Homo sapiens: one gene and its partners. The protein of the gene in region 3 interacts with the protein of the main gene of each other region in a pairwise test. Each region holds a gene or a part of one and is shown on either strand. Other genes may lie near its edges.

What was found.
Region 1: the proteins of TMEM63A (region 3) and GPR37 interact in a two-hybrid assay, tested with the Homo sapiens proteins (one large-scale study listed by BioGRID and IntAct).
Region 2: the proteins of TMEM63A (region 3) and DRD2 interact in a two-hybrid assay, tested with the Homo sapiens proteins (one large-scale study listed by BioGRID and IntAct).

The regions. Positions count from the first base shown.
Region 1 is NC_000007.14:124,755,698-124,759,351, forward strand, and holds part of GPR37 (prosaposin receptor GPR37 precursor), read right to left. Parts: intron 1-3,654.
Region 2 is NC_000011.10:113,426,783-113,430,436, reverse strand, and holds part of DRD2 (D(2) dopamine receptor), read left to right. Parts: intron 1-3,654. UniProt on the Homo sapiens protein: Dopamine receptor whose activity is mediated by G proteins which inhibit adenylyl cyclase. Positively regulates postnatal regression of retinal hyaloid vessels via suppression of VEGFR2/KDR activity, downstream of OPN5.
Region 3 is NC_000001.11:225,848,134-225,851,459, reverse strand, and holds part of TMEM63A (mechanosensitive cation channel TMEM63A), read left to right. Parts: intron 1-1,380; coding exon 1,381-1,548; intron 1,549-2,447; coding exon 2,448-2,563; intron 2,564-2,905; coding exon 2,906-2,968; intron 2,969-3,326. UniProt on the Homo sapiens protein: Mechanosensitive cation channel with low conductance and high activation threshold. In contrast to TMEM63B, does not show phospholipid scramblase activity. Acts as a regulator of lysosomal morphology by mediating lysosomal mechanosensitivity.

The DNA of each region.
Region 1 (3,654 bases), on a different chromosome or scaffold from region 3:
AGATTCTAAAGATTCCATGTTTATTCTCAGTAATTACAAAATCATTTCAAAATGTAATATTTCCCCCAAGCCCACAGTCCAGTTCTCAATCTTTGGTATTATTATGATGTTCCTAGTCAATCTTAAAGTGACCTGGAATTTCAGTTCCTTACCTTGGGGTTCTGATGAGTTTCCAAAAAGCAGTAACACATTTTTACCTATTTCCCTTTCTGACTAATGATATTGATTTGCATGACTGTGAACTCAAACTAAAAACAAAATTATGTATAGTTAGGTCATCATGATTTTAATAAAATTGAGAAACCATATTTTAGGACAGAATTTATCTGCTTTTAACCAAAATTTCACTATTGGTAGTCTGTTAAGGAAATTTCTTTCTTGATTCAATCTTCTTATAAAAGGCAGTTATTTCTAAATTGCATATCTTGATGCGAATTGGCTTATCAGATGCTTTTCCGATATAAAAAGGATTTGAATTAGGAAGACAATAGTAAAGATAGGCCCTGAAGATGGGAATTGATGAGGAAGGGGCTATTTTGACAGAAAAAAAGAAAAAAGTAACATCCCTGAATAGAGTCACAGACCTAATAAGAATGTCTCATTCTAGGCAGGGATCAAATCAATGACCTTGGCCTCATTAATGAATGCTATGAACTATTCAAGTGTACAGACAGATAACACTGAAAACTATTACAAATTCACAAATGGAAAGTATTCTGTCTCAAGAACAAGACTGACACAGTGATCATATCCTGCGTTTTATGGAAGTTTATGAAAAGTACCTACACTTACTCTGCAAATAAAAAAAGACCCTCCATATTTGACGTTGCAGTAATCCCATTCTCAACTCCACTCTGAAATTTTGGATGAGATCATCTCTTCTGGCACAAAGAGTATTATTCCAATTAGGATATTTAAGAGTTAGTCTTGGCAACAAGGTTGAGTTCATTATTGGACCTTGGCAGGTCAATTCATGGGAAGTGAAATGACAGGCGCATCCCTGGAGGATGGAGCAGAAGTGCAGAGGCAGAGACAAACTGCACTGCATAGCTGCCTTCCCATCCCTCTCCCACAATCTACATCCCAGACACAGGTCCATGTGCTTCCAATGGGATACTGTTAAAAGGTTGCCGCACATAAGACGAATGCCATTAAAGGTGTAAAAATTGTATCAAGGTCCATGCAGCCTAAATATGAAAGCAAAGGTAGACCCTCACCCACTCAGCCTTCGGTAAACTTATAAGCTCATATCTGTTTTACTTCTGCAGACACATTTGCCTCCTTGTCTCTGTGGAAGGATACTTTGCTGACATGGCAGGATACCTTGGGAGCCCTCAGGAGCTCAGAATAAATCTTCACTCTGATTATGTGCTTGAGAGATTAATCCAATTCTTGAGAAAGTCCATTCATCGTGCTCCCCTTTCCTCGACTCCACAATGGAGTCTAAAGTATCGCCCTTGTCCATCTTCTTTCTTAGGTTCTCCAAGGTCAAGTTAAACAATTTGTATATGTTTTGATTTTTTCAGAAGAAAAGGACTCAATTTAATATACTGTTATTACATTGCCAAATAAGCCATTCATTTAAATAAAATGTTTAATTTTGACGTATTTAGTGTCCTTATAGCTAATAAGGACTAATTGTAAAGCAGAGATAGATATCCTAGGCACTGGCACAAATTCCATATTTTAAAAGAAATTTCTAGAACTGAACTATTTGCTGAATTATTTTGCCAATTATTATTATGGACTTTCTATCCTGGGAAAGCTAAAGGAAACAAAAAAGCAAGAATTAAAAGATTTTCACATTTGTAACTTTTCATCATGGATCTAGGCTGTATAGGCATTTATGAAATTTATGAAGATTAATAGTAAGAATGTAACTGAAAAGAATTAGAGGGAGCACAGTTTTCCCTTTAATTTCTCCATCTCTGGTCATAACAAGCACAACTGTGACTTGACCCATTTCAGTGCCATTTCTGAGCTTCCACGATGCTTTGTTCAAACCTCTATTATAATATTCATCATGGTGTAGAACATTACTTTACTTTTCTGTAATTTTAATGGCAGTGGCTCATCTATGATATTCATCTTTGGAAACTTTTCCCCCTCTTCCTGTATTGCCTTCTCCTGCCCACTCCTAATAGTACCTCGCATAGAAGAAAAGCCAGGTAAACATTTGATAAATCAATGAATGGTGAACAAATGAACGAATGATGACACCTATGGAAAAGGATTACAGAAAATAATAAATTATTCAAATTGTTCTTTAATCAGTTATTGGGTGCTGCTGTTTTATATATAATCCTTAAAAGCTGAATGCCAGACAATATCTATAGAAGGGAAGTTAAAAAATCAATTTTCCTATTTATACTTCATTGACAAGCTTTAGAAAAGGACACATTCTCATTATGATCAATGGAAAAGGAAACTATTTGGATTTCTTATTTGAATATTATAAAACTTTTCTTTCTTGTGGAAGATCCAAATTCAGTTAACTTCACCATACACCATTCAGAAATGGAGTTATAAATAAAAGTGCACTCTAAGAAACACTTTTCTTCCTGTTAGAGTCATCAGCTAAATATTTTCATTTGCATGGGAATATATAAAATGATTACTAAAAGATTAATGGGAAGTCATAAAATATTTGTTCAGCACCATTCTCATATATTGAGCACATTTTCCCTAAGAATACTATTAGTAACTTTAAAATTGCTCATAAAACAGTAAGTTTCCACTTAAAAGTCCGGCAGAATACCTAATGACTAATCCACCTCTCAAAGAAAATTTACCATATGCCATGATAAATGTTCTATTACTTGAATACAGGCGTTCTAGGGAAATCTGTGTAGACTCAGATAGTTGTATGGCACTGTCATCTTCAACCTCCAAAAACCCTTTCTTTCTTGTCAGTGCTAGCTACAATCTAAGGCAATGAAAGAGCCATTTGTTCCACTCAACTTAAAACCAGTATTGCTAAAGTCATTGGAGAAGCTGGTTCCTCTCATTAGAAAAGATTCTAGACTTGTCACAAATTATTCCCAGACCAGAGGCCATGGTAAGACATGTTCCCTTTATTCTCTCTCCACCTCTGTGCAGGAGTTTTATCCCAGTAAAATAAAAATACAGTTAGATCTGGGGTTATCTCATTATAATTATTTGAAGCCTTCTGTTCTACAACACTCCATGAAGGTGTGGGTTCTTTAAACTAAAGAGAATCTCGATCATTCAAAACCTCCAATTAATGTCCAAACAGACCTTAATCTGTTATCTGGGATCTCGGTCAGATGATACCTTGATTCTGACTTCCATTAAATAATGAGCAAAGATTCATTCCAGTTGCCATATTTGATGTCTGAATTATTTGAATTTTTTTTTTTTTTTTTTGAGACAGGGTCCCACTCTGTCACCTAGGCTGGAATGCAGTGGCATGATCATGGATCACTGCAGCTTCAACCTCCAAGGCTCCAGAAATCCTCCTACCCCAGCCTCCTGAATGGTTGGGACTACAGGCATGCACCACCACATCCCGTTAATTTTTGTATTTTTTGTAAAGATGGAGTTTCGCCCTGTTGGCCAGGCTGATCTTGAACTCCTGGGCTTAAGCAATCTGCCTGCATAGGCCTCCCAAAGTGCTGAGATTACAGGGGTGTG
Region 2 (3,654 bases), on a different chromosome or scaffold from region 3:
GCATTTTACAATGGATGACATCTTGGAGCTCTACTGGGGTTGGATGGCATTTTTTTCTTTCCTAGTGATATATAAAATAGTGGTGCATCTTCATTCGATTTTGTCTTAGAGTCTATGAAATGTGGTGATTAGTATGACAGTCATCGGCTATAGCAGCTGGGCTGGGAGAGCTGTATCTTCCAGGCCAGCTGCTACCTCATCTCAAGGGTCACTTGAGTTTGTCCTACAGCCAGGGCCCAGGGACAGGCTTTGTCTTTTCCTTCCTTTACTTCCTCCCAAGGAGTTGGTGGCTGCATCTTGAAATCCATCTCCCTTCATCTAGCCACCTATTTTTCAGGATGGGCCATAGGAGGCAGTGGGCCCAGGAGGACCTCAGACCCTAGTGAGCTGCATTTGAACAGCAACAGTCACTTCATCTTGCTGAGCCGTTGGCTTGTGGTCTGATTGCTTGTTTCATTTCATTCTTTTGCTTGGTTTGATTTTTAAAGTTGACATTCTCAAGGGCTTACCTGTGCCTGGCACATGGCCATGAGTCATCTTACTTAATACTCACAATTGTTGTTATCTCTATTTTGTGTATGGGAAAACTGGGCTCAGGAAAGCCAAATAATCTGGCTGAGGCCCCAAAGTTAGTAAATGGTAGAGTTGGGACTTGAACCCAGGTTTTTTAGTCCTCAACTCGAATGTTATACTAGCACCTCTCAGGCTAGAGTACCTTCTCTGTGGCAGTGGATTTGCTGATGTCTGAATTCCTGCTCAGCTTGATGTTTACATGGTGAGAGCCAGCTAGGCTGCCCCTGCTTGTGAGAGGTGAAAGCCCCAAGTAGATAAGGTGCTGAAGACACGATAGAAACCAGGACTGACACCAGGTGTTAAAAGATAGCCCTGTACTGGCCGGGTGCGGTGGCTCACGCCTGTAATCCCAGCACTCTGGGAGGCCGAGGCAGGCAGATAATGAGGTCAGGAGATCGAGACCATCCTGACTAACACGGTGAAACCCCGTCTCTACTAAAAATACAAAAAAATTAGCTGGACATGGTGGCGGGCACCTGTAGTCCTGGCTACTCGGGAGGCTGAGGCAGGAGAATGGCGTGAATCCAGGAGGCGGAGCTTGCAGTGAGCCGAGATAGCCCCACTGCACTCCAGCCCGGGTGACAGAGCAAGACTCCATCTCAATAACAAAAAAACCCCCAAACAAGCAAACAGACAAAAAGATAGCCCTGTACCAAGGTACTTATAGGGGTTACAGGTATTTAGGCATTTGCCATGTTTTCCCTTTTTTTTCCTATGGTGTAAATATACTACGTTTGTATTAGCAACAAAAAGCAACGAGAACAACCAATAATAAATAATAGATTAGAAAATCAAATGTGTGAGGCCTTTCTCAGAACTTGGGTACAGGGACTCTCCCTTACCCTGCAGAAGTAACCAGCACTCCAGAGAATGAATGCTCACCCTCAACCCCACCTGACCTGCAGTGCTCACATTTGCCATCTACATTGTACTCATAATTTTAAATCCTAGACTAGTGCCTGTAATCCCAGCACTTTGGGAGGCCAAGGCAGGAGTATCTCTTGAGGCCAGGAGTGTGAGACCAGCCTGGGCAACATAGTGAGACCCCCATCTCTACAAAACATTTTTAAAAATTAGCCAGGCATGGTGGCACATGCCTGTATTTCCAGCTACTCAGGAGGCTGAGGTGGTAGGATCACTTGAGGCCAGGAGTTGAGGCTGCAGTGAGCTATGATTGTGCCACTGCACTCCAGCCTGGGTGGCAAAGTGGGATTCTGTCTCTATTAAAAAAAAATTAAATCCCAGTTTACATCCTCCCTCCTCCAGGAAGTTCTCCACAAACGCCCCAGCCACACACATGTGCATATGCTCCTGAACATCAACTGTAGTGGACACGGTGGAGTGCCACCCAGATCCCCCTGCAGGACCACAGCCCTCATCCCCATCTACTGGGAGTGTTGGCAACTGACAGTTTTTGGCAATTGCCCACTGCTGAGGAGAGATGCCTCTTTCAAGGCCTCGCTGCTTTCCCTGGGACAGCCAGAAGCTGTGACATCTATGAGAGGGGATTAAAGGCCCTACCCTGTTGCCCTCATTTAGGCAACTGGCAGGGTGCCCTGTGGGGTCACCTGATGCCTTTCTTGTGACTTCTCCCTCTGGCCTGTCCTGCTTCCTCACTTCTTTGCACATCTTGATCCTGAGAGCATTCCCCTGTACATTTCCTGCAGGCTGATTTCCTCTTCAGAGTCTACTTCTAGGGACCTGTATTAGTCTGCTCTGGCTGCTATGACAAAATTCCACAGATTGGGTGGATTGAACAACAGAAATCTGTTTCCTCATAGTTCTGGAGGCTGGGACGTCCCAGATCAAGGTGTCAACAGGGCTGATTTTGCTTAAGGCCTCTCTCCATGGCTAGCAGATGGCCGCCTTCTTGCTGCATTCCCACTTGGTCTCTCCTCTGTGCGCGCATCCCTGATGTCTCTTTTTATGTCCAAAGCTCCTCTTATAAGGACTCCAGTCAGATTGGGTTAGGGCCCACCCTAAGCGTCTCATTTTAACATAATCAACTCTTTAAAGGCCCTGTATCCTAATACAGTCACATTCTGAGGTACTGGGGGTTAGGACTTCAACATATACATTTTGTGGGTTGGGGGAAGAGCATAGTGCAGACTGTAACAGGACCCAACATGCAGCACCTATGGCACCCTTGGGGTGCCTTACTTTTTCATCACTTGTTAATCTGGTAGCCTATGTTAGCAGGTGCCTTTCAAGTGGGAAGGGGTTTTCTTCCCAGTTGCACTAACAGAGCCTTTGATTCAGTTCAGCAAACATCTGTTGAATACGTACTGCCCACAAACCAGAGTCAAGAGTTGGGAAAGAACAAGATAGTATGGTTTTTATTTGTTCATTCCAAGAACAAGAGGAGGAATGAGCAAGACATGTTGTAACTCTTGTGATGTCTACACCCCAGTGAAAAAAAGAGACTCCTAAACAGGTGTCTCCTGCAGCACTGGGGTGTGTTTCAGTGCTGCAGGACCCTGAGGAGGGTGGGTGATGGCTCAGGCAGGAGGATATGGGTGGATTCTAAGACAGGAGGATTCTAGGCAAGACTCACTTTGAAGGATGCATAGGGACTGGAAAAGCAGAGGGAAGGGAAGTGAACAGAAGAGTTTTCCAAATCCCTTTCTTATTAAAGTAGGGATAATAATTAGACAAGATCAAGCATGTTCCAGGTAGTATGGCCATAGACAGGGATAATAATTAAAAGCCTCCGAGGGTTGTTTTGAGGATAAATGAGACAGTATATCCAAAAAACTTAGCAAACTATCAAACCCTTTACAAGTATATGATGCTATCATCAGCAGCAGGGAGTGGGGGGAGAAGAAGAGAGCGATGGTCAGGATGGGGGCAGTAAGTGTGCCTCACACGCCTCAGGCCCCTGACACTGCTTTGCACAGTGCTTTATGCCCAGCAGGTTCAATAAATGCCGATTGAGTAAATGAATGTCAGAAGCAGCCCCAGGCACCTGATCAATACATACATGCAGGCCTCCCGCTGTGGGCTCCAAATGGGAAGAGGGCTCAGTTGGTTTTGCAGAATACAGCATCAATATGACATATGCTTCATTACCTTAGAACAGGA
Region 3 (3,326 bases):
AGGCAGAGGTTGCAGTGAGCCAAGATTGCACCAGTGCACTCCAGCCTGACCAATGAGCGAGACTCCATCTCAAAAAAAATAAAAAATAAAAAAACAAAAGAACCTGGCATAATAGAAAAGGCAGCACCCACTTTCTGTTGGTCCCCTGTGTGCTCCTGTGCCACCCCTGGGGTAAGACCCTTGGGCCTCATTCTCTGTTGACTGTGATGAGGGCAGGGATCAGCCGGGTGGGAGAAGGCCAGGGGTGTGGGAGCACTGACATACAGGGGCTCAGCATGGGAAGGGCTGGGGAGGAATTGAGGCCAGGCATCCAACTGTGAAACAGCCTCTTTCCAAGATGATTCTGGAATGTTAGTGTTCTGTGGGGACAGGATCACAGACACTGTGACTCCCTTGGTGCAGGGTCTGTCCCACAGACCCTGACCCAGCGACGGATGAAAGACATACACTGCCGGGTGCGGTGGCTCTCGCCTGTAATCCCAGCACTTTGGGAGGCAAAGGTGGGCGGATCACGAGGTCAGGAGATCGAGACCATCCTGGTTAACATGGTGAAACCCTATCTCTACTAAAAATATAAAAAATTAGCCGGGCATGGTGTCAGGCGCCCGTAGTCCCAGCTACTTGAGAGGCTGAGGCAGAAGAATGGCATGAACCCAGGAGGCGGAGCTTGCAGTGAGCCGAGATCGCACCACTGCACTCCAGCCTGGGCAACAGAGACTCTGTCTCAAAAAAACAGACAGACAGACATACACTGACAGATATTTTGCCTGTCAGTGCGGCTAAGGGGCTCTGCAGCCTGAGTCTGCAGTGTAGTCCTCAATGCCAGGCGAAGTTCGCATTTATTTAGTACAGACTAAATGACAAAGGTCTCGAGTAAACACCACTAGAGGGTAATTAACATTGCCGACCCCCTGAATAGCGAGCAATCATGCACCAGTGGATGATCAAAGGTTGGTCTTAGGACCACATGAGTAAACAAGCTATTTAGGTAAACTCCCCCACATTCCTATGTATCTGCACCCTAAGCTTTTAAGAGAATTCAGCTGCCTTCAGCCAAACCCTTTACTGAAGCTATGCAAACCTCTCGGCTTTCCAAGAAGGTTTGTGTCTATTTCCTATAACTTTATCTTAAATTTTCTCCCACCACCCTGACCGATCCCCTACACCTTGGGGTCACAGATAAGTGAGGAAGTGGGTAGGAGAGAGAAAGTGAAAAAAAACTAGTAGCCAGAGGTGCAGGATGCCTCATTTTGTGTTCAGGCAGTAGAGCAGCAGCCCCAGCCCTGGCTCCTTGCCAAAATAGCCGCCCCGGAGAGGAAGAGGACAGAGGTGTCTGTGTGGCCCTGCGAGGTCTCCAGCTCACAGCCCCATCCCCTGCAGGCCTCATCTACATCCTGCTCAAGCACATGGTGGACCGGCACAACCTCTACTTCGTCTACCTCCCAGCCAAGCTGGAGAAGGGGATCCACTTTGCCGCTGTGAACCAGGCCTTGGCAGCCCCCATCCTGTGCCTCTTCTGGCTCTACTTCTTTTCCTTCCTGCGCCTGGGTGAGCAGCCCTTCTGACCTGGGGCCAGCCCTTGGCCTCCCAGCCCTGCATCCCCACCAGCCAGTCAGATCCCTCATTGCTTTCACAGCATCAGCATGGCATCCAGTCAGAATGTGGTGCCCAGAGTGAGGGCTGGTTAGGTGTCCCATCAGAACGTGGTACCCAGAATGAGGGTTGGTTACATGTCTAGTCAGAATGTGGTGCCCAGAGTGAGGACTGGTTAGGTGTCCAATCAAAACATGATACCCAGGGTGAGGGGCTGGTTGGGTGTGGTGTTGACAGCCTGGCTCCTAAGCTAGCCCGAGTGCAGGTGTAACCCTTGTGAAGGCCTGGTCAATTGTCCCATACATCCCTGGAGAGAAGATAGTGCCTTTATCAGCTGTGCAGGGACTGAACCAGAGGAAATGGGGAAGCTGATCCAGATTTGCCCTTTGAGGCTGGTGGTTGGGCCCAGCTCCTTGTACCTCCTGGCATGGAAGAGGTGGGGACGTGGAGGAGAGAAAACTGACACTCCTGGGGGAAAGACACGTCTGCCCCGGTCAGACTGGGGGTGTGGGAGGGTCCATCCTCTCTAGCCCAGGGCACTGGAGACTGGAGGGAACGGACCAGCAAGGAGGCTGAAGAATTGCCATTGACTTGGCACCCCAGTGCCTGAAATCTGACCAGGGATGATGCCAGTCATTCAGTGGGTCCCTCTGTGTGTTCCTGGCTGTGAAGACACCATCCTTGCTGCTGGAGTTGAGGGGTGGGGGTGGGGGGTTAGGCCTTACCTTTATTTTCTGCCTGAGGGAGAAGTCACGGGCAGTTTCCACACCAGGTGCGGCCCCTTCCTCAGCAGGGTGAGGGTAGGTGGTGGCCCCTCCCTGCCCACCCCAAGGCTAGCCACCCTCTATCACCAGGTATGAAGGCCCCCGCCACTCTGTTCACCTTCCTGGTGCTGCTGCTCACCATCCTGGTCTGCCTGGCTCACACCTGCTTTGGATGCTTCAAGCACCTCAGCCCTCTGAACTACAAAGTAAAGGCCCCCGACCCCACTGCCCGGTCAAGCCCTGGGAGGAACAGATGGTGGGACGGGCTCGCTGTCAACCCCGCCCACCCTTGTCTGTATCAACACAGCAGCAGCCTTCTCCAGATTCTGCTTCTCCATGGGAAAGGCGTGGGTGGTTGGGTGCCATGTGTAGCTTCCCTTCCTCCCCTCATCCCTGCACTCCCCCACCCCATCCTCTCTCGGGCTGCTGGGGAGCTTGGTGCCAGCTGGTACTATTATTCCGGGTGTTAATAGTCTGTGTGTTTGGAGGGTGTTTGTTCACAGAGATCAGTTTTGTTTATCATCGCAAGTTTTTGCTGTTATCTGCAGACAGAAGAGCCTGCAAGTGACAAAGGAAGTGAGGCAGAGGCCCACATGCCCCCACCGTTCACAGTAAGCTGTGCCCCTCAGCCTCTGAGCTTGTCGCCCTTTTTTTTGCTTTGGTTGTAACAGTCCCAACCAGATGGGCCCCGGCAAATCTTTGATCATCTCTTGCTAAGATCACATGGCAGGCAAGTTTGTGAATTAATGGCAGAGAAGGAATCCTGGTCCCCCTGGGTATTTTAACCTGCATATTTGAAACTGTTGAGGAGATAGAGTCTTGTCTCGATTCATGGCCATCCCCCTTGGTTTCAGTTCCCTGCTCTCTTTCCTTCTCTGCATATTTAATGCCTGGTGAGTTTGGGGCTTTAGTGAAGGCACATGGTAAGGCGCTAGGGTTTGACAAAGGTTTGTCATCAGCGATGCACCT